Regions from separate parts of the Homo sapiens genome. Here all the other regions are linked to region 1. The links come from fine-mapping of genetic effects on gene expression. A gene starts in region 1. Each other region holds a variant in brackets. All regions are shown on one strand. Distances are from middle to middle.

What was found.
Region 2: its variant is fine-mapped to the expression of TNRC6C in whole blood (TOPMed, PIP 0.97).
Region 3: its variant is fine-mapped to the expression of TNRC6C in fibroblasts (GTEx, PIP 0.98).

Annotation. Positions count from the first base shown.
Region 1 is chr17:77,953,555-77,961,738 of GRCh38, forward strand. TNRC6C (trinucleotide repeat containing adaptor 6C) reads left to right here and starts at 5,149. Exons shown (of 23, transcript NM_001142640.2): 1 at 5,149-5,714. RefSeq lists silencers at 4,764-4,813, 4,834-5,293 and enhancers at 4,966-5,525, 5,526-6,084.
Region 2 is chr17:77,842,741-77,850,924 of GRCh38, forward strand. No RefSeq gene overlaps it. Among named protein-coding and RNA genes, the nearest start is that of LINC01973, 37 kb to the right of the region's middle. RefSeq lists a silencer at 996-1,095 and enhancers at 2,715-3,364, 3,365-4,012, 4,013-4,662. The variant T/C (reference allele first, on the strand shown) is at 3,970.
Region 3 is chr17:78,049,659-78,057,842 of GRCh38, forward strand. TNRC6C (trinucleotide repeat containing adaptor 6C) reads left to right here. Exons shown (of 23, transcript NM_001142640.2): 5 at 1-1,790. Among named protein-coding and RNA genes, the nearest start is that of TMC6, 75 kb to the right of the region's middle. The variant T/C (reference allele first, on the strand shown) is at 4,799.

The sequences.
Region 1 (8,184 bases):
GGCTCACCCCTTCTTCCTCAGGGTCCCACCCAAAGACTCGAGCTCAGCCTACTCCTCCTTCCACAGTCCCTTCCTCACCATCCATCCTTTCTCACTGAGAAAGACAACGAGGCAACATCTTTTACCATTTTCTTACCCTCCAGATATGTCAGACCCCAAGTCCCCCAGAGCTGAATTTAAAGTTATCTTTCAAGCAGGTCTTCTCCGTTTAACCTCTATTGCTACTCTAGGGGATTCCATAAGTTCTAGTTTCCTGGCTGCAGAACTGTGCAGGCCGCCTACCCCCTGCCATCACCTCCTCCCTGGCCCTTCCTCTTCCAGGTCATCTGCTACAATGTTTCCAGAGAGCTCTCTTTAACAGTCAAGTGTAATAATGTCTGGAATCATCCAAGAGCTCCACATTGCCTTAAGGATAAAGTACCAACTCTTTAAGGTCACATGAAATGCTCCTTGTATTCATAATCTGGCCTTGGGTGTGGTGGCTCACAATTGTACTCCTAGCACTTTGGGAAGCCAAGGCGGGCGGATTGCCTGAGCTCAGGAGTTTGAGATGAGCCTGGGCAACATGGTGAAACCCCATCTCTACTAAAATACAAAAAATTAGACGGGCGTGGTGGTGCGCACCTGTAGCCCCAGCTACTTGGGAGGCTGAGTTAGGAGAATTGCTTGAACCCGGGAGGCAGAGGTTGCAGTGAGCCAAGATTGTGCCATTGCACTCCAGCCTGAGTGACAGAGCACGACTCCATCTCCAAAAAACAAAGATAATAATAATAATCTGGCCTCTGCTCATCTCTCCCATCTCCTCTTACCTGGGCTGTTGCAGCCCCACTAATGTCTTCCAGCCCCCTGAAAGTGCTGCGCTGCAAGCTCTCTTGGGTTTCCTTTACACTGACCTTTCCCTCTTTCTTCAGTGCCCTTCCATCAGCTTCTGACCTATTACTGCTTTCCCTTGCATCTTTCAAGACTCAGATCTGAGGCCCTTGGAGAAGTCTTCCTGAGCCCTTCAGAATGACCTGAGTCTCTTCTGTCTCCTGCAGCACCTCCATGCATTGTAATCATAGCTCAAGCACGGCTTGCAGCTTTAAATCCCTGGCACCTAGTTCGCTGCCTGGCACGTAATACACGGCAATTCAGCAAGTATCTCTAACTCAGTGAGGAGTACAAAGGAGAAGTCAGAGGCCCAGAAACTTGCCTAAGGTCAAACAATTAGTGAGCAGTGGAGTTGAGACTCACCCTTACTTTTATTGTAAGGTTCTAGTCTCTATTCCAATATTATTATCAGCATAGTGGGAGGACAAAGGCATCAGAATCACTTGGGGAGCTGATTAGACATGCAGATACATGGGCCTCATCTGGACCTAAGGTGAATTTGTAATTCAAACAAGCTACCCTGGCGATTCTCATCAACAGAAAGTTTGAGAACCGACGCCCTGTGCCTTGCTGCTTGTCTGAAAGGCCTCTGTAAATTTATCACATTTTTCTAAGTCAGTTCAGTTGCTATCTATCGGTGACAAGCAGGGAGAGCTGAGCCCGGCTTTCTTACATTTTCATTGAAAAGCAATCATTTGTTGGAGTCCTGAAGGTTTTCCCTTTAAGAGTCCATCATTAGGATGCAAATTATACGTGTAAAATCAACAGAAATAGGAGGATGGAGTAATTCAGGCACCAGTGTGTGGTAGGAAGTGACTGGGCATGGAGAGGGGTATTATACGCAAATACAGCCCTCAAAAAGGTGTCTTTATTACTCTCCTCCAATTTTCATCGCCTCAGAATCATCTGGAGGGCTGGCTAAGATGGAGATACCTGGGCCCCATCCCCAGAGGTTTCGATTCACTGGGTCTGGCAATGGGGTCTGAGAAGTTGCCCTTCTAACAAGCTCCTAGGTAAAGCCAATGCCGCTGGTCTGGGGGAACACACTTTGGGAAACCCTGAGCTAGTCAACACAGTAATCTGTTTTGCAATAGTCATGGAGATAGGGACGTGATCATCCTGTCTTTCCACTTAAACCCCTGCACAGATGTGGATCTTGCTACCTTTCTAAATGGAGTTTCTTTTTCTTCCCATAGCTTGTTGGAGTACAGGTGGTATTTGGTTACATGAGTAAGTTCTTTAGCGGTGATTTGTGAGATTTTGGTGCACACATCACCTGAGCAGTATATACTGCACCCTACGAAATGGAGTTTCTATTAATAACTCCATTTGATAGAAACTCCATTTTGTAGGGTGCAGTGTATATTTGAACTAATTTGCCTAATATCTACCACCCACTGATCTCAGGTTGGCTTCTCAGGATTTCAAAGAATATATCTGTACCTATTTGCATACAGGAGTTTCAAAAATATCTGAAAAGAGCCATCCTGGCCTGCTTGTCTCTTCTTCCCTGCACCAATCTCTTCTGCTTCTTCAGCTGTTGGTCAGACTGGAGGATTTCCATCAACAACTGGCTGTATTCTGAGTCAGTCTCTAACTTTGTCGATTTCTTTCTTGCACCCTGGTGCTCAGAACTGGCCAAAACACTCCATTTGGGATCTGACCAGCTCAGAGTGCAATCTCTTAAACTGGACACTATTTTAACGTAGTGTTGTTGTCGTCTTCAAGCAGTTCACACATTTAGCCTTGTTGAACGTGTGGTCATCTATAACTAGAATTTTTTACATTACCTTGTATCCAGCTAAGTCTTCTTCATTTGTCCTCAACTAGTTGACATTTTAATTTAAGAGACACATTTAACATTTAGTCCTCTTAAACGTAATTTTGTTGGTTTTACCCTTTTTTTTTTTGAGACAGAATCTAGCTCTGTCATCCAGACTGGAGTGCATTGGCGCCTTCTCTGCTCACTGCAACCTCTGCCTCCCAGGTTCAAGGGATTCTCCTGCCTCAACCTCCCAGGTAGCTGAGACTACAGGCGCCCGCCACCATGCCTGGCTAATTTTTTGTATTTTTAGTAGAGATGTCACCATGTTAGCCAGCATGGTCTCCATCTCCTGACCTCCTGATCCGTCTGCCTTGGCCTCCCAAAGTGCTGGGATTACAGGCGTGAGCCACCATGCCCAGCCCTATAGATGATCAACTTATACCTTAGTTATAAGGTGGTGGTGGCAGGGCTGATAACAGGATGACCAACCCGAAACATGAACGTACCCATTTTTACAGTTGTGCCTGGGGTTCCTACTCATACTTTATCAGTTCAAACAACCACTAATAAGTGACACTGCTCTGCAGTCTTAACATTCATGGCCACCATATGCCTCAATGTTTCTGGGTCAACTTTAGTTTCAAACATTATCTCTACTGTCACAGGTCCACATGCCAAACTATGAGTCCAGTTTGGGGTTCAGAACATATAGTCTCTATAGTTCTGCCTTTTCTCGGTGCTCAGAGTCTAATATCATTGGAGAAGAGGACGATTTTTGCCTGATTAAACTGAGGGAGGGGGATAAGAAAGGGAACCAAAGACAATGCTAAATAATGTATTTTGGTTCAATTTTCCAAAAAGTGAAGCTCTGCTTATCACAATGATTGGTCCACTCTGGTCCACCCAGATACCTGGATTCCTCATTTATGTAGCAGCAGTCTACTTCGTGGGCGCTGCCTATTTTGAAGATGTTATTTTGCACTCCCTTCTGGAGCATGTGATAATACCTCTACCTTTGAGAAATACAAAAGATGTAGGTTCTCTGCAGTCGAGAATTAAATGAACGTAAATAAAATGAATAGACAAGGCAGAAGCCTCCATGTCAGCTCCCTCTGCCTTCAGATCCTTCTAAGGGATGTGGGTTCTCGGGAGGGGAAATACACAACACGATACAACAGACATTTGACGACCCTTTAGAGGCTGGTTGTGAATCTGACTACCGGAGGGCTTAAAATATGGCAGTAAGAAGAAAGGAGCTCATGGGACCCTGAAGGGAAACGAGAGCGGGGAATTTGTCTCTTTCATCCACAGTCGTTTCAAAGCATGACACTTGCGGTAACAAAATTGCATTGCGAAAGTACTAGTGTGTTATTATCTCCTCTTCAAGACAGGGACACGTAGACAGGGAATGGCCTCTTCCAATACCAACTTCCAAGTAGCACTGCTGATCCTCCACTGAACGATGGGGGAAAAGCTAGCCTGCTTCTGCGACCTTGCATGAAAATGGAGAAAATTCTTGGTTTCAAAATCTTCTCCTGGCTTGAACCGAAAGTTAAAAAGGGACTTTTCGAATTGCACATTGCGCCTGACCTTACCTACCACTAATGAATAATGGATATCGAGGAGCCGTGGAATGGAGGATCACGGCGGCGTACGGAGCACCGGGGAGGAATCGTGGGGTGCGTAGGCGCCGGAGCGCCCGGGTTCGGCCCGGACCGAAGGCTTGCGCGGTGAAGGTGTGGTGTCTGTGCTCCGGGGAAAGGGCTGTCTCCCCGGGGGACTGTTTCGCAGCGAGGCTTGTTTTGCTCGCAGCTGGGCGCTCCCTGGGGAGCGACTGAGCGCAAGGGCGGGCCGGGAGGCGCGAGGCGAGCACGATGCTCCAGGGCCCCAAGGACTCGTGTGCGTGTGCGTGTGCAAAGTGGGGCGGTGCAGGGCGTGTGCACGGCACGGGCGAGACGCGCGCCGGTGCGGGCGCCGGGCGCCGCCGGGCGCAATTACAGCATAAAGCCCGGGCGCCGCGGGGCGCTGGCCCGGAGAACCCACCGGACGCGCAGAACCGGATCGGCACCCCTCCCGCCAGCACCCTAACGCGGAGCCACAGCGCCCAGGGACCGGAGGGCAGGCGGCGGCGGTAAAGGACACCACGCAAGTCTCCACGTAACCCCCCCGAGCAGTGCAAGCTCCCAGGACTGGCGCGCGTCCCGGCCACTCGGAGCGCGCACCGCTCGCACCCCGGCGCGCTCCCCGCGCGGTGCAGGGAACCACAGCGCGGGCGGGTATTAAGGGGAAAGGAGGAGGCGTGGCCTGGCCGAGGAGCCAATGGGCCGGGAGGGGCGCGCGGGGGAGGAGCTCAGGTGCAGAGTGCCGATTGGCCAGTTCGCCCTCCGGTATGCAGATACGGTGGGAGTCACGTGCTAGGGGCCGGGACGACTTCCTGTTGGAGGCCAACGCGGGGCGGGGAAGGGGGCGCGAGCGCCCCGTCTGGCTGAAGCGGGGGGAGGGGGGTTCTTGTCAGTTAGAGCAACAAGATGGCCGCGGTGGCAGCTCCGCACCTCAGCGCGACGGCCCCGGGAGCCGTAGCCGCCGCCGCCGGCCCCGCCGCCGCGCAGTCTTGAGCGCCGCCCGGGCCGCCCCCTGACAGGGCAGTCCCAGCGCCCGCCGCGCTCCCGCCGCCGTCACCGTCGCAGTAGCCGCGGGCCCGCCCGAGCCGGAGGCGGAGGGAGCGGAGCGGCCCCGCGCCCAGCCGTCCGCAGCTGCCACCGCCGCCGCCGCCGCCGCCTAGGACCCGGACCCCGCCGGAGCCGCATCCCGCCGGGCGTGAGGAGGAGGACGCGTCGCGGCGTTGCCGGGGCCGGACCTGGACCTGCCGGGACGCGCCGCCGCCCACTCGCCCGCGCCGCCGCCGCAGCCGCCGCCGCCGCCCGCGCCGGGACCTGAGTCCGTGGCGCCGGCGCTGAGCGGGCCCCCGCCGCCCGCGCACTCCCGAGGCCCTCGGGCGGTTGTTCGTGCCGCCGCCGCCGCCAGGCCCGCGCCACCGGAGCCCCGCGGAGCCGCCGCCGCCGCCGGGGACGGAGCCCAGGTGAGCGCGGCAGTCCGCCCGCTCCTCGCCGCAGCCGCAACTTTGCCGGGAGGTTCGCGGGCCCTTTGTTCGGCCGAGCCGAGCCGGGGCGGGCGCTGGCCCCTAGCGACCCGCGTGCGGCGCCAGGCCCCGGGCCGGCCGGGTTTGAGGGGAGCGGCGGGAAGCGGCCGGGGCCGGGGCGCGTGTGTGCTAGTGTGAGACGGGGCTGTGCAGACGCCCGGTGTGCATCACAATCAAACGGGAGTGGAATGGAGGGCTGAAGATGGATGTGCCCCCTCCCTTTTAAAACTCATGCAGCGGTGAAATTCGGTCCTTTCCGGGCAGCCCCCCGCAGATTTTGCACTGGTGATGGCAGGCGCGAACCCGCCGTGTTTTGGTGCAGGAGCCCGGTGCCGTTGTTTGGGGGAAGAGAAAAACCCGGGGCGTGCTGCGGGTGGGCGGAGAAGGACCCCTGGGCGCTCTGCGGCTCTGAAATCAGGTGGATTTTCTAACGGTGCTGCGGACTGCGGAGTAATGCGTATGAGGAAAACGAGCCGTACAACATCTGTCCTGTTATCAGATAACGTAACCCGAGCGCCTGGTTGCCGCCTCTGCTTTAAGCGGTGCCTCCTTTGCACCTTTACCTTGAGGACGAGATTTAATTAATTGATTCGTAGCTATGAAAATGTGCAGATGTGGATGTGGGGGTTCCCTGCCTGTTAACCTGGGGAAGAAATAACTGGCAAGCATGTTACACGGAGCTTTGGGGATCTTAGCAAAAATGAAGGCTTGCTGCTTGGATGTTGTGCCGGGAGGTAGGGGAGGAGGAGCCGCTAGATCGTGGCTGCACCTATTGCATTCGAAGGCATTTGACGGTATTGGTGATTCTGCACGTAATTAGTGGAGTTGTCTCAAACCTTTGCCTCCGCCAAATGAAACCTCCATTTGAGTGGTCCGCTCGGTTATTTCTAGGCGTGAACTGCGGATTCTAAACTCAAAATGGTGCTCTGTAGATGTCCAACTTCAGCGTCTTTAAGGAGTTGCAAGTTGGAGCCTTCTGACTGGGTTAATCCATTGTGTAGCCGAGGTTCGGTTTTTCTCGAGTGTCTGGTGTTCACGTTGACGTACTTCGGCCAGTACAAGGTAGCCAATTTATGGTGATCGCTGTGAGAGCCTCGTACGTCCCTGAATGTAATTTGAGCCTGCATAAGGCCTACTTTATGCAAGTGATTTCCTGCAGTTGGAATTGAATAACTATGCGAATGAGTTGAGACCCTGGAAACCTGGCTTGAGTGATTTCAGAGGACAGTGGTAGCTGGTTTGAAATGTGTAGGGGGTGTTGGCAATGATATTCATAGATTCCGGATTTCCTTCAGTACTGTATGAAAGAATAAATGATAAAACTTAGCCCCAGGCCAGATGAACTTGGTTAGTAGAGGGCACCTTGAAGAAATTTACATTGTTCCAGAACAGCAGAGGTGGCAATGGTCTTTGAGCATGTTTCACTGTAGCACCCCTAGGATGCTTTGTTGGGGGAAATAATGCAAAACAGGGTTTTTAAAATGACTAGTTCAGTTGTCGGAATTAATTTTGTGTGTATTAATAGAACAAAGTAATGATGTGAACAGTTGTAACTTTACCTATACTGAAAGTTTTTTTTCTACAGAAAGTTTTTAATATTTATTTTCATAAGAATAGACATTCTTGGAAGCTGTTTTTCATACAGATTTCTCATGACCTGACCATAGGCATAGTCAGGCCGTGAGAAATTGATAGCTCAGAAAACGGTAATAGTAAACACACACACACACTCGTTTTTATTATAAGGATCTGATTTTAAAAGCTTGTTTGTAACTCTTCTGTGCTTCTTGTCCAAAACAAAGACCTTGCTGACCTTACCTCGGTTTTACTTTTTTTTTTTTTTTTTGAGACAGTTTCGTTCTTGTTGCCCAGGCTGGAGTGCAATGGCACGATCTCGGGTCACTGCAACCTCCGCCTCCCGGGTTCAAGCGATTCTCTTGCCTCACCCTCCCGAGTAGCAGGGATTACAGGTGCCCGCCGCCACGCCCGGCTAATTTTTGTATTTTTAGTAGAGACGGGGTTTTGCCATGTTGGCCAGGCTGGTCTCGAACTCCTGACTTCAGGTGATCCGCCTGTCTCGGCCTCCCAAAGTGCTGGGATTACAGGCGTGAGCCACCACGCTCGGCCGGTTTTACTTTTAAGGTATGAAATTAAATACGGTTGATACTGAGACTGTCTGTCATAAGGTTTAATCTTAACAATTTCATTTCGGATTCTGCCATTTAAATATTCTGGTAGTAACCTGGAGTATATGTAAGTGTTGGTTTTAGATTTTCGTCCTTCGTGTTTATTGCGGGGGGCGAGGGTGGGTTTCGAGTAGCATATGTCTTAACACTAACATCATTTCGAAACAGGTTTACATTTATATTTAGTTGGCTTAGGAACTTTGGAGTAAATAGTTGCCTTTAGA
Region 2 (8,184 bases), 110 kb before region 1:
ACCCTCCCACCATCAGCTTTCTCCTCTTTATCCTGTGCCTCCAACTTCCCCCTTCCATGGCTGCTACATAATAAGCATTCAATAAATATGAGTCATTAAATAGTCACTGCTGTTCCTGCCTCTTCCCCCTCTCTATATTAACACATTCAGTGTTCTATCACCTAAGAAAACTAAAACCTTCCAAAATGTTTCCCACATGTGGTCGGCTATTGATGATTTTTATTTCTGCCTTTGCATTTTTACATGTCAGAGGTCTCTACCATGCACATGTGTCTAAGAGGATTACAATGAATAAGAGCTGACATTGGCTGAGCAGGAACTCTGGGCCGTCCCCGGTGCTAGGAGTTTCCTATGCACCCTATTGGTTCAGCCTCTCGACAATCCCATGTAGGGTTACCAACTGTCCCAGATGGCCCAGGCCTGAGGGGCTTCCTGGGACAAGAGACTTCTATTGCAAAAACTGGGATAATCTCAGGCAAACCAGGAGGGTTGGCCACCTTCCACCAAGGAGGCGCTATCATGATCCCCATTTTATAGATGAGAAAATTGAGGCTCAAAGAGGCTTAAAACTCTCCCTCGGGGCCAGGCACGGTGGCTCATGCTTGTAATCCCAGCACTTTGGGAGGCCAAGGCGGGCAGATCACTTGAGGTTGGGAGTTTGAGACTAGCCTGGCCAACATGGTGAAACCCCGTCTCTACCAAAAAATACAAAAATTAGCCAGCTGTGGTGGCACATGCCTGTAGTCCTGGCTACTTGGGAGGCTGAGGCACGAGAATTGCTTGAACCCAGGAGGCGGAGGTTGCAGTGAGCTGAGATCGCACCACTGCACTCCAGCCTGGGTGACAAAGTGAGACTGTCTCAAAAAAAAAAAAAAAAAACCTGCCTGGGAATCTGATCAAAAAAGGGGCAAGCAAAGGACGTAAGTAGACATTTCTCCAGAGAAGACATACCAGTGGCCAAGAAGCCCACGAAAAGACGCTCACCAGCATTAGTCATCAGGCAAATGCAAATCAAAACCACAATGAGGTTGAGGTGCCACTTCACACGCTCGACAACAGCTATAATTTTGTTTTAAAACTGAAAATAAGCGTTGGTGAGGTTATAGAGAAATTAGAACACTTACACATTGCTGGTGGAAATGTAAAATGTTTCAGCCACTGTGGAAAACAATTTGGTGATTCCTCAAAAAGTTAATCATAAAATTGCTATATAATCCACAATTCCACTCCTATGAATATAGCCAGAAAAACCTGAAAATAGACACTCAAACAAATACATGTGCACACACGTTCATAGCAGCATTATTCATGCCAGCCAAAAGGTGGAAACAACCCAGATGTCCATCAAACAATGAATGGACAAATGAATTTTGGTCCATCCATACACCGGAATATGATTCCTTAAAGAGGAATGAAGCTCTTAGATGAATGAAGCCTAAGAACATAAAGCTCAGTGAGAGAGGCCACAGGCCACAGGCAAAAGCTCCCATTTAACCTGATTGCATTTTTTTTTTTTTTTTTTTTGAGATGGAGTCAGTGTCATTCTATCACTCAGGCTGGAGTGCAGCGGCACGATCTCGGCTCACTGCAACCTCTGCCTCCCAGGTTCAAGCCATTCTGCGTGAGCCTCCCAAGTAGCTGGGATTACAGGCATTCGCCACCACCTCCAGCTAATTTTTGTATGTTTTAGTAGAGAGGGGGCTTCACCGTGTTGGCCAGGCTGGTCTTGAACTCCTGATCTCAGGTGATCCGCCCGCCTCAGCCTCCCAAAGTACTGATTACATTTTTATTAATTGTTCAGAGGAGGCAATGCATGCAAACAACGCAGATTGGTGGCTTCCAGGGGCTGGAGGAGGAGGAAGGAGGACTGACTGCCACTGGGTACGAGGTTTCCTCTTGGGTGATGCCAAGGTTTGGGAACTTGCAGAAGTAGTGGCTGCACAACATTGAATATACTAAATGCCAGGAATTGTACACTTAAAAACGGCTCATTTTGAGCTGTGAGCTTCACCTTGATTTACCAAAAACAACAAAAACAAAACCTGTACTTCAGGTCACACAACTGATGAACACAGAGCCGGCCCCGGAGCATAGGACACCCACCAGCCCGCCTTCCGTGACCGCTGGAGCCTGTGTCGCTGCTAGTCCCCCCTAGCTCAGGCCTGCCTCCCCATGCTTCTCCAAAGGCTCTCTCTACTTGTCCACTCGCCATTTGCTTGTCACCGGGGTCAGGCTTCCCCGACCACCACCCTGTGCTGGTCACCCACCCTCTTCCACTGGGCAAGTCCAGTGAACGGCACTGGGGGGTATTTGCCATTCTCCCCACCAGACTGCTGCAAACTGCCTCATAAAATTACTCAGAAAAACCCAGGGAGGCCAAGCATGGTGGCTCGCACCTGTAATCCCAGCACTTTGGGAGGCCAATGTGGGCAGATCACTGAGGTCAGGAGTTCGAGACCAGCCTGGCCAACATGGCGAAACCCCGTCTCTACTAAAAACACAAAAATTAGCTGGGTGTGGTGACGGACCCCTGTAATCCCAGCTACTCAGGAGGCTGAGGTGGGAGAATCACTTCAACCCAGGAGGTGGAGGTTGCAGTGAGCCGAGATTGTGCCACTGCACTCCAGCCTGGGTGGCAGAGCGAGACCCCATCTCACAAAAAAAAAAAAAAAAAAAAAAAAAAGAGAGAGAGAGAGAGAGAGAGAACCGAAGGGAAAGGAAGAAAAGAAAAGATAAGAAAAACCCAGGGAGGACAAGACCCAAGCAGCCAAGCAGGTCACCTCCTGAGGCCGCTGCTTTGCCCCTCTAAGGACGTCTCAGGGCTATGTCTTCCTATGCCCCCCCTTTTCCTCTCAGTCAGCCCCCACCTCACGGGCCTGCCCTGCAGGGTGTCGGGGGGCTCTTCCTTCTTGTTTTTCTAGCCTTCGCTCAGCTCAGTCAGTCGGAGCCTGACCGTGGGGGCAGCTCCTCTCTGGGGCCGGAGAATCATTCCTGTCTCCTGTCGAAATGACCCTTGGTAGGAAGGTAAGTTCACTGTCCCCAGAAGGCCTGCGGGAAGAGGCACTGCATTTTACTCAGAGCCCCTGGCAGCTGGGGAGCTGAGGAGGGGCCGTCTGTCTCCTCTGTCTGTCAAGACACACTAGAGAAACAGGTGGGGAGAGAATCCGCAGAGCTGCCCGCAGGTGGCCCCCTGGGTGGGACTGGGCCTCTCTGCTTCCCGGGGCTGCAGGGAAGGTGTCACAGGCTAAGGGTGGACTCTGGACACGGCTGCAGCTCTCACCATTCAGCTGTGGGGTCTCTCTTCGCACCTCCATCCCGAGGGTCAGGGAAGGACTGGGCGGAAAAAAGCCAAGAAGCTGGTCTCATCCACAGACACATGGGGCTTCAAGGTGGAGGAGCCCCAGCCCAGTGGGGTGGACAAGGTGCCGGGGACTGCATAGTGACCGTCAGGGCAGCCATCAGCTCCTCCTATGAAACCCCACAGGGGTGGCTGGCACTTGTCACCCTGAAGAGGCTGCAATTCCCTCGCACAGGTCATCTTGGAACAGGCAAATTCATTATAGACCCCTGGGGTCAGGAGGGGGCTCAGTACAGTCCCAGAAGGTTCCATGAAAGCCAGAAGTAGTGCCCTCAGCTTCAGCCAGGACCCTCCTGCCTGCACATTTGTTGACCACCCAGGGCCTGGGTGCTCCTGCCTCCGGCCCCCTTTCCCCACCGTGAATCCATATGGTCCCTTCTTTCCCAGCACAGCCACAGGACAGCTCTGTCACACCCTCCCCAGTGACCTACCATGAGCCACCTGGGCCGACTGGCCCTCCTTCCCCACAGAGCCCCTGGCACCCAGGACTTCCTGGCAGGTGCTGGCCCTGAAGTCCTGGGCTTCCTCTGGGCTCCTATGTGAAGCCAGCGCCCTGGAGGCCAGGTGTTTCCTGTGGGTGGGGGGGCCTGGAAGGTTCTACCACACTCACA[T/C]TCCACCTCCTCCTCTGGGGCCTCCCACTTGTGGCTCAGGCCCTGCTACTGTTAATCAGAGGGAAGAGAGAAGGCCCTGGGGATGGGGTGTGTGAAGGCCTGGACTGTCTACCGCAGGCTGGGCATGGGGTGGGGAAGTCTCAGGGTAGCAGCAAGGCAGGAAGGGGAGGAACACCCAGAGCTTGGGGGCAGAGATAAGTAAGGAGCCCCCAGTTCCAGGCAACCTGTGGGTGTGGCCTCTGGGGACCAGCCAGACAGCCTGGCATGGACAGCCTCACTCTTCTCACTGCTTTGCAAATGCCACAGGTGGTCAAGCACCCACGTGGTCTTCACACATCTGCACCTTGCAGGTCCAGGATGGAGCTGTGATCATCGCTGGATGGGAAAGCAGCTTCCTGTCTCCCTCTCAGCAAGTGGAGTGCAGTGGGGTGGGCAGCTGCTTGCTGCAGACTCACTCCTATCCCCAAAGAAGCCTTGAGAGGAGGCCCTACCATATGGGGAGACTGAAGATCTGAAAGGCCCAGCTTGCCCAAGGAACTCAGCCAGTGAGTGGCAGAGCCTCCTCCCGTCCCAAAACTCTGCCTCTGGCCACCCCCAAGCACTGCCCCTCTGATGGCATCAGGGACGCGATAAAGAAACCTCAGGCAGGGCCGGCCGAGAGCCCTTCTCCCAGGCTTGCCTCCAGCTGTGCAGGAAGCCCACCTGCCCAAGACTCACCTGCGGCATTTGGCGAAAAGCAGTCCTGGGCTCCCACCCTCCCCGGCCTACTTGAACAGGATCTCGAGGGGTGGACCCAGGACTCTGCCCAAGACTGTTGAGTCCCTCCCTCCCCGGTCTTTGAGGTGGCAAGGCTTCCCCTTTTGCCTCCACTCCCCTGTTCCTGCCACAGCAGCCTCCTAGGACTGTGTTGCTCTTTTCCTTTGAGTTGGTCTGGCTCTGCAGGGGTCACCCAGGCCCCAGGCTCTCAGTGGGTGGGGATCTGATGTAGCACTGACATGTTTCATCCACTTGACTGGCAGGTCAAGGACAGCCTGGAGGTGGGCAAGTCATCAGGACCCCAGACCAGGAACGATGGAGGCTCCAAAGTCCACCAGTAGAGGGAAGAAAATAGCCGCTGTCCCCAGGCAGAGCCACCAGTCACACAGGGACGAGATCTCAGAATGAGCACTGGGCAGGGTTCTCTGGGATGCTGAGCTCTGGTCTTCCCTGTGAGCGGCCTTGGACAAGTCATCTGCCCAGACCCTCCATACCCCGTGCTGTGTCTTCTCAGAGAGTGAGCGTTCGGAAGCATGGCGCTCTCTGAAGTCCGTGGCTGGGATGTCCATGGCTGTGACGACCTTCTGAAAACCATGTGGTCTCTGTCCCACTTTCAGCCTCACAGTGCACGAATGCAAGCCCGGAGTAAGCGCCCCCAACTGGGCTCAAGACCTTCTTCTTGGGGGTCCCTGTTGCATCAGCTTCTTTTAAGTTAACTTTCTCTTGCAGTACAGTATGAATAAAGAAAAGTCTAACACTATGTGTCCAACTCCATTTGGACTTTCACAAAGTGAGTACCTTCATGTCCTCAGCTCTCAGATCAAGAAGAAAATACTGCCAGCTCCCGAGTCCTCTTCTACCTCTTCCTGTCATTAATACCCCCAAGACAACGACGACCTTGACTACTAACGCCAGAGGTTAATCTGGCCTCCTTTGGAATTACACGACAGGTACGCTCTTGCATCTGGCCTCTCTCCTCCCACGTGGAGTCTGAGCCTCACCACATGACGTCATAGCTCCTTCCTCTCACTGCTGTAGCCCAGCCCATCTCATGAACAAAGCACCATCCATATATCCATATGCCTCTGTGGATGGATGCTTGGCTCGGTTTTCAGTCTGGGCTATTACGGTGCTGTCATGAGCAGTCTCCTGGTGAACATTTGCACACGTTTCCTTTGCGAAATGCCTGGGAAGGGAATTACTGGGCTGTTGGGTGGACATGTGTTTGGCTGCAGTAGGTCCTGCCAGCTTTCTCAAGTGGTCGTACCAATTCACCCTCCCTCCACCATTGTGGGAGGCCCCAAGCTGCCCCTCGGCACCAACATCTGGGATGTCTTTTTCTTTTGAACCACTCTCTTGGATTCGGTGTAATGCTGTGATTGTAATTTGTATTTCTGTGATGACTAATGTGGTTGAGCACCTTTTTCTACGCCATCACCTTCTTTTTTTACTTTGGGTTTTTAATAGACACATAATAATTGTACGTATTTATGGGGTATATGTGATATATTGGTACATGCATACAATCTGTAATGATCAAATTGGGATTTTAGGACATGTATCCCTTCAAACATTTACCATTTCCTTTTGTTAGGAACATTCTGAATCTTCTAGCTATTTTGAAATACACTACAAATTATTGATATCCATAGTCACCCTACCATGCTATTGAACACTAGAACACATTCCTTCTATCTAACTGTATTTTTGTACCCATTAACCAACCTCTCTTCATCTTCTTTCCAACTCCCTACCCTTCCCAGCCTCTGGGAACCACTGTTCTACTCTCTACTGCCATGAGATCCATTTTTTTAGCTCCCACATATAAGAACATGCAGTATCTGTCTTTCTGTGCCTGGCTAATTTCACTTAATATTATGACCTCCGGTTCCATCCATGTTGCTGCACATGATAGGATTTCATTCTTTTCGTGGCTGAATAATATTCCACTGGGCATATGAACCACATTTCCCTTATCCAGCGTCCTTGATGAACACTGAGGTTGATCTCATCTCTTGGCTACCGTGAATAGTGCTGCAGTAAACGTGGGGGCTCAGCTGTCCTTTCATACTGAAGTTCTTTATATATTCCGGGCACTAAACATAGACATAGATATGAGTATAGACATAGATATGGATATGGATATAGATATGGATATGGATATAGATATGGATATAGACATGGATATAGATATGGATAGATTGGAAATGGATATGGATGTGGATATAGATATAGATGTGGATATGGATATAGATATGGATGTAGATATTGATAAGGATATAGATATGGATAGATTGGATATGGATATAGATGTGGATATGGCTATAGATGTGGATACGGATATAGATATGGATAGGTTGAATATGGATATGGATATAGATATGGATATGGATATAGACATGGATATAGATATGGATAGATTGAAAATGGATATGGATGTGGATATGGATATAGATGTGGATATGGATATAGATATGGATGTAGATATTGATAAGGATATAGATATGGATATAGATATAGATATGGATATAGATATGGATAGATTGGATATGGATATAGATGTGAATATGGATATAGATGTGGATATGGATATAGATATGGATGTAGATATTGATAAGGATATAGATATGGATATAGATATGGATATAGATATGGATAGATTGGATATGGATATAGATGTGAATATGGATATAGATGTGGATATGGATGTAGATATGGATGTAGATATTGATAAGGATATAGATATGGATATAGATATGGATAGATTGGATATGGATATAGATGTGGATATAGATATAGATATGGATATAGATATGGATAGATTGGATATGGATATAGATGTGGATATGGATATAGATATGGATAGGTTGAATATGGATATGGATATAGATATGGATATAGACATGGATATAGATATGGATAGATTGGAAATGGATATGGATGTGGATATGGATATAGATATGGATGTAGATATTGATAAGGATATAGATATGGATATAGATATGGATAGATTAGATATGGATATAGATGTGGATATGGCTATAGATGTGGATATGGATATAGATATGGATAGGTTGAATATGGATATGGATATAGATATGGATATGGATATAGACATGGATATAGATATGGATAGATTGGAAATGGATATGGATGTGGATATGGATATGGATGTGGATATGGATATAGATATGGATGTAGATATTGATAAGGATATAGATATGGATATAGATATAGATATGGATATAGATATGGATATAGATATGGATAGATTGGATATGGATATAGATGTGAATATGGATATAGATGTGGATATGGATATAGATATGGATGTAGATATTGATAAGGATATGGATATGGATATAGATATAGATATGGATATAGATATGGATAGATTGGATATGGATATAGATGTGGATATAGATATAGATATGGATATAGATATGGATAGATTGGCTA
Region 3 (8,184 bases), 96 kb after region 1:
AATGCAGACAAATGGACTGCCAAACTGGGGCATGGCTGTTGGTATGGGGGCCATCATCCCGCCCCACCTGCAAGGCCTTCCTGGTGCTAATGGATCATCAGTTTCTCAAGTCAGTGGGGGCAGTGCTGAAGGAATAAGCAATTCTGTGTGGGGACTGTCCCCAGGTAACCCTGCCACAGGAAATAGCAATTCTGGGTTCAGTCAGGGGAATGGAGACACTGTGAACTCAGCATTAAGTGCTAAACAAAATGGATCCAGCAGTGCTGTGCAAAAGGAAGGAAGTGGAGGAAATGCTTGGGATTCAGGACCTCCTGCTGGTCCTGGAATACTCGCCTGGGGAAGGGGCAGTGGCAACAATGGCGTTGGTAATATCCATTCAGGAGCTTGGGGCCACCCCAGCCGAAGCACCTCTAACGGTGTGAATGGGGAATGGGGAAAGCCCCCAAACCAGCATTCCAACAGTGACATCAATGGGAAAGGATCAACAGGGTGGGAGAGTCCTAGTGTCACCAGCCAGAACCCTACCGTACAGCCTGGTGGTGAACACATGAACTCCTGGGCCAAAGCGGCATCTTCTGGAACTACAGCAAGTGAAGGAAGTAGTGATGGTTCTGGCAACCACAATGAAGGAAGCACTGGGAGGGAAGGAACGGGAGAAGGCCGAAGGCGAGATAAAGGGATTATAGACCAAGGGCACATCCAGTTGCCAAGGAATGATCTTGACCCAAGAGTTCTGTCTAATACTGGTTGGGGACAGACTCCTGTAAAGCAAAACACTGCCTGGGAATTTGAAGAATCCCCTAGGTCTGAAAGGAAAAATGACAATGGGACAGAGGCCTGGGGTTGTGCAGCTACTCAGGCTTCAAACTCAGGGGGGAAGAACGATGGGTCCATCATGAACAGTACAAATACCTCTTCAGTATCTGGGTGGGTCAACGCGCCACCTGCCGCTGTGCCAGCAAACACAGGTTGGGGAGACAGCAACAACAAAGCGCCAAGTGGCCCGGGGGTTTGGGGGGACTCGATAAGCTCTACTGCTGTTAGTACTGCTGCTGCTGCCAAGAGTGGCCATGCTTGGAGTGGGGCCGCAAATCAGGAGGACAAGTCACCCACCTGGGGTGAGCCTCCAAAGCCCAAATCCCAACACTGGGGAGATGGACAAAGATCAAATCCAGCCTGGAGTGCAGGAGGGGGAGATTGGGCAGATTCATCGTCTGTCCTTGGACACTTGGGGGATGGGAAAAAAAATGGATCTGGATGGGATGCTGACAGTAATAGGTCAGGGTCTGGTTGGAATGACACCACGAGATCTGGGAACAGTGGCTGGGGCAACAGCACAAATACAAAGGCCAATCCAGGTACAAACTGGGGGGAGACTTTAAAACCTGGCCCCCAACAGAACTGGGCTAGCAAACCCCAAGACAACAATGTGAGTAACTGGGGAGGAGCTGCTTCTGTGAAACAGACAGGAACAGGGTGGATCGGGGGGCCGGTACCGGTCAAACAGAAGGACAGCAGTGAAGCAACTGGCTGGGAAGAACCCTCTCCACCGTCCATTCGCCGCAAAATGGAAATTGATGATGGTACCTCAGCTTGGGGGGACCCAAGCAACTATAACAATAAAACTGTAAACATGTGGGATAGAAACAACCCGGTCATCCAGAGCAGTACCACGACCAATACCACCACCACCACCACCACTACCACGAGCAACACCACACACAGGGTCGAGACGCCGCCCCCGCACCAGGCCGGTACTCAGCTGAATCGATCACCGTTGCTTGGTCCAGGTAGGAAAGGTATTTCATGTTTCTTTACAAGTAAAAAAAAAAAAAAAAAAGCTTATTCTCATTATATATTCATGAATACTCCGAGTAGTGTTTTTTATAGCAAATAGCATTAAAATAATTTAAGTTCCCTATCACCGTGCAATATTGTATCTAAAGATTATCCAGTGAGAGCAAAGTAGGATCCTCTGGTGGTTTTCTATTCAAGAAAAAAATATATTAAGCACACTCAGTAGAACATCAAGCGAATGTTTTGGTGGTGGCGGTGGTGGCCTGGGGTGGAGATGATGGATTTGAAAGCAATGACAGTGCATGATTCCAAGATTTCGTAACCATTTGGATACAGGAGCAAAGAAGATAGGATAGACATGGTTCAGAACTTGGGCAAGTTGGCAGATGACTGTGTCAGTTCACTGACATGCCCATGAGCACAGCAGGAGGCACAGAGCTCCAAGTGTCCAGTGAGGACAATAAAAGGTCCCAGATACGGAAGACCAGTTCTCAGCCAGAGGGGCAAGGTCCAGAGTAGAGAGATTTTAAGGTGGCAAAGTCGTGAGCATGTTTCAGAGCTGTTAGAAAGGAACAAGTGGAGATGAGAATGAATGAAGAGGGAAGAGATCCCTGTGTCCAGCAGGACAAGGGCACTTCATCCATCTCGTGAAGCAAGGAGCAGGAAAGAGCGCTGCACAGGTGGGCCAGGCTGTCATGGCCAGAGGGCCAAGGCCACCTTCTGGGGTTCTTTTCTCTCTGGGAGTGTGAATACTAGCCCAGAGTGGAGGAGGGCTGGCTAGGAGCAGCAGCACGAGTAGAGAGGGAGCATGCATTAGCCCATGTAGAGGACAGGAACAGAGAACTGACTTGACTGGGGCCCCTGGAGGGTTGCTGGGCAATGTCAGGGCCCAGAGATCACCATACACAGTGAATTTATTGGGACCTGCCATGTACTAGGCTGTACTCTAGTAGCTGGGGAAACTGCAGGAAGCAAAACAGTCAAAACCCTGCCATGGAGGGGTCTAGATCTAGTGAGGGTGGCAAACAACACACGAATTAAAGTATATACGTAGTGTTGGGCAGTGATGGTGCAGGGAGGAAACAGTAAGCCCAGAAGGTCTGCATGCGGGGGCCACTGGAGTTGGGGAATCACCATCTTGTGTAGGGCAGCCTGGGCATTTGGGCACCTTTTTGGTTTTTGTCATAAGCGTTCAACAGGAGAATGTCCTGCCTGCTGCATTAATTCAATTATGACTGCCCTACAGGACCTCCCCTGGCCCACCAGCTGGGCCCTCCAGCCTCCTCGTAGACTTCTTGGTGGTTCACTTGTGTACCTCTCTGAGGCTGCCACATCAGGAATCCTTTATGGATCCTCAAGACAGTTTTAGCCTCCAGCTAACGCATCAGTGTCACTAAACCAGAGGTCAAAAATCAGTGGTCCGTGGGCTGCACCTAGTCCCACAAATGTGCCTTTTTGGCCCACATTTTTTCTGTGAATTGGCATTTTTTTAATGCAAATGTTTTATATTAAATTCCAGATTTCTGGCTTCCTTTGGAAACCTGAAAAGTCTGACATTGGATTCACATGGCAGCAGTCAGTCAGAGCCACTTGCCTTCATAAGGGCCTGTGCATTTTCTCCATACCATGTCACGTTGCCCCCCGACCCCTGACGGTTCCCAACACTGAGGCTTTTGATCAGTAGCCACTGAGCATCATCAAGCTTGCGCTGCTGTTCTTACGCTGGGCCTGTTTACGTTAACTGACTGGTTCCTTGGAGTACTTGAATTTGTGATTCCAATTGTTTACTAATATATGACTAATATTTCTAGGCCCTTACATTTTATAAAGTACTTGGGGGGATAAGGAGAAGCAGGAAGAAGGAAAATGAAGGGATTTGAAAAATAAGATTAGGTCGGGCGTGGTGGCTCATGCCTGTAATCCCAGTACTTTGGGAGGCCAAGGCGGGCAGATCATCTGAGGTCAGGAGTTCGAGACCAGCCTGACCAACAAGGTGAAACCCCATCTCTACTAAAAATACAAAATTAGCCGGGCATGGTGGCGCATGTCTCTAATCCCAGCTACTCAGGAGGTGAAGGCAGGAGAATCATTTGAACCCAGGAGGCGGAGGTTGCAGTGAGCTGAGATGGGGCCATTGCACTCCAGCCTGGGCGACAGAGCGAAACTCTGTCTCAAAAAAAAAAAAAGAAAGAAAGAAAAATAAGATTATTCCTAAGTAAGGAATAGTCTAGTGGGACAGGCTAGTAATATCAAATTTAATAGAGTTTAATTAGCATTATAGTAAAGGTATGCAGAAAGTGATCTGAGAGCCCCCACCTGTAATCCCAGCTACTTGGGAGGCTGAGGTGGAAGGATGGCTTGAGCCCAGGAGTTCAAAGCCTGCCTGGGCAACATAACGAGACCCCATTTCTTTAAACAAACAAACAAAAAAGCTCCAGGAACAGAATTAATACAGTCATGCATAGCTTAACAATGGTGATACATTCTAAGAAATGTGTCATCAGACAATTTCAGCATTGTGTTAACATTATAAAGTATAGTTACATAAACCTAGATGGCATAGCCTCCTGCTCACCTAGGCTATACGGTACAGCCTGTTGCTCCTAGGCTACAAACCTGCACAGCATATTACTGTACTGAATACTGTAGGCAGTTGTAGGACGATGGTAAGTATTTATATATCTAAACATGAAAAGGGGACATTAAAATATGGTATAAAATATTTAAAATGGTGCACCTGTATAGGGCACTTACCATGAGTGGAGCTTGCAGGACTGGAAGTGGCTGTGGGTGAGTCAGTGAGTTAGTGGTGAGTGAATGTGAAGGCTTGGGACACTACTGCACACTACTGCAGACTACGCACACCACTGCAGACTACTGCACACTACTGCAGACTACGCACACCACTGCAGACTACTGTACACTACTGGAGACTACTGCAGAGTACTGTGCACTACTATACACCACTGCAGACTACTGTAAACCACTGCAGACTACTGTA[T/C]ACTACTGCAGACTACTGCACGCCACTGCAGACTACTGTACACCACTGCAAAGTAGAGTTCACCACTGTATACCACTGCAGAGCACTGTACATCACTGTGGACTACTGCGCACCACTGCAGACTACTGTAGACTACTATACACCACTGCAGACTACTGTAGACTAGTATACACCACTGCAGACTACTGCACACCACTGCAGACTACTGTACGCTACTGGAGACTACTGCAGACTACTGTAGACTACTATACACCACTGCAGACTACTACAGACTACTGTACACTACTGGAGACTACTGTGGACTACTGTACACTACTATACATTACTGCAGACTACTGTACACTACTATACACCACTGCAGACTACTGTACGCTACCATACACCACTGCAGACTACTGTACACTACCATACACCACTGCAGACTACTGTACGCTACCATACACCACTGCGGACTACTGTATGCTACCATACACCACTGCGGACTACTGTACGCTACCATACACCACTGCGGACTACTGTACGCTACCATACACCACTGCGGACTACTGTACACCACTGCAAAGTAGAGTTCAGCACTGTACACCACTGCAGAGTACTGCGCACCACTGTAGACTGCTGTAGACTTGGTGAACACTGTACGCTTAGGCCACACTACATTTATTAAAAGATTAAAAGATACTTTCTTCAGTAACACTTAGCTTAAAACACACATTGTACAGCTTCACAAAAGTATTTTTTATATTCTTATTCTATGAGCTTTTTTTTTGTACCTTTTAAACTTTTTTGATAACTAAGACACAAACGCACACGTTAGCCTAGGCCTACACAGGGCCGGGATCTTCAGTATCACTGTTGTCCACCTCCACACGTTGTCCCATTGGAGATCCAATAACAGGAAGTACAGTAAAGACATAAACTGGTAACATAGTCTTGTATCAGCATCATCAGTTGTGTGTGCTAGACCTTGCTGTGACTGGCCGCACAGTAGGTTTGTTTACACGAGCATCACCACAAACACGTGGGGAATGCATTCCGCTACATTATGATGGGTATGGCGTCACTAGGTGATGGGAATTTTTCAGCTCCATTATATATAATCTTAGGGGACCATTGTCCTGTACGCAGTCAGTTGACCAAACCGTCATTATGCAGCCCATGACTATTTTAAATTGGCTTGTGTGTCCCATCCACCCTTAGTGGATAGTCCCAATTTGAATGCCAACTCCTGGAAGAGTTCAGGCTACAGAGGGCCCTATGCCTGGCACTGGAGTCGTGCAATAAATGTGGTCTGGCCATGGTTGGCAGTCATGTATGGAGCATTTTTATGGATCACCTCATTGGATTTTTACAGCTCCTTGGGCCTCATTTTACAAATGAGACCTAGGAGATTAAGTAGCTTTCCAAGGGTACATATGTGGGAGGGAGATGGTGAAGTCTCAGATGTGTAATATATACCATGACCTGCTGACATTTCTAAAATATTACATCCATGACACCCTACAGAGGTTAGAACCACATTGCATTTGTTGGGGGATCTCTCCCCTTTGATACGTGATCCTTAGAAACTTTTTCTTTTAGAGACAGAGTCTTGCTATGTTGCCCAGGCTGGTCTCAAACTCCTGGCCTCAAGCCATCCTCTCACTTTGGCCTCCCAAAGTGTTGGGATCATAGGTGTGAGCCACCATGCCTGGCCAGAAACTACTTTTTTTTTTTTTTCTTGAGGCAGAGTCTTACTCTGTTGCCTGGGCTAGAGTGCAGTGACACAATCTCGTCTTACTGCAACTTCCACCTCCCGGGTTCAAGCGATTCTCCTGCCTCAGCCTCCCAAGTAGCTGGGATTACAGGCGATCACCACCATGCCTGGCTAATTTTTGTATTTTTAGTAGAGATGGGGTTTCACCATGTTGGCCAGGCTGGTCTGGAACTCCTGACCTCAAGTGATCCACCCACCTCAGCCTCCCAAAGTGCTGGGATTACAGGCATGAACCACCATGGCCGGCCCAGAAACTACTTTTTTTTTTTTTTGAGACAGAGTCTTGCTCTGTTGCCCAGGCTAGAGTGCAGTGGCACAATCTCAGCTCACTGCAAGCTCCGCCTCCCAGGTTCACGCCATTCTCGTGCCTCAGCCTCCCGAGTAGCTAGGACTACAGGTGCCCGCCACCACGCTCGGCTAATTTTTTTTGTATTTTTAGTAGAGACGGGGTTTCATCATGTTAGCCAGGATGGTCTCGGTCTCCTGACCTTGTGATCAGCCAGCCTCGACCCCGCAAAGTGCTGGAATTACAGGCGTGAGCCACCACGCCTGGCCCAGAAACTACTTTTAACTTGTTTTTAGTAGCCAAAACATGGGAGCTTCATGCTGAGAAAGGCATTCTTGTTCAGTTAAAAGGGCCAAAATAATTCTCTTTTATATGAAAAATATTTATAGATTTTTTTAAACAAATTGCACATATTATCACCAAATATAAAGAAGAAAAATGTGCTGTAACTGCTACACCTTAACAGAGTGTTTCTGTACTCTGTTCTCCCCTGCAACTTTTGCAGCCTGTGCATGCGTGTGCTCTTTGTAGGTGTAGCAATACTATAGGAGCAGTTGCAAATCTAGTTTTACCAATTAAAAGAGACAAATAAAAAGTTACACAAATTTTTTTCCATGTGGAAGTGTGCTCACATGCTGAAAGTATGTTAAGTTTAGTATATTGTACAACATATGGGGTTATTTGTTCATTTTTTTCATTTATAACATTAATCTCTTTTTCTACCACTGGCATAAAGTGGCTACACTGAGTATTATTCCTGCCCTGTATTACCTGTGATGTTTAACTCTCAGACATGAACCAAGCCTTCTTTTGCAGTGAGAGCAAAGTTCATCACCCTTAAGAATTACAAGTAATCATAGCCTTTCACTCTCCAAACTTGTTAGACCAAGCTATTATTTGAGCCTGTAGAAGTAACAGTTCCACACCAGTTCCCTTCATAGAGGTGACAGCATGCAGGAGTGGCATTACCCCCGGTGGCAGCCCCTTGCCCTCCTCTCTGGGGACTGTGCCATCTGGGCAGTCAGGGTCAGCAAGGGCAGCAGCAGTCTCAGCACCTGCTGGGCCGTGCTGCCCACTGGCTTGAATGCCTGCGCAGCTTTCCATAGCTACTGGGATTCCCAGACAAAAGCCTTCCACTTGTGACTACTTCATGAAGTTTCTGCTATTTTTAAAGTTGGTGTTTTTAGGTTTTATTCAGCATAGGTTGACCTATGCTGAATTTATAGAATTTTCACTTATGTCAGAGTTTGGGTTTTAAGTTGTGGATCATTACCACTTAAGGGTATTGATCTCTCCTGTCTTATAAAATATGATTTCTGAATTACATTTTTGTGTGTGTGTGTGTGT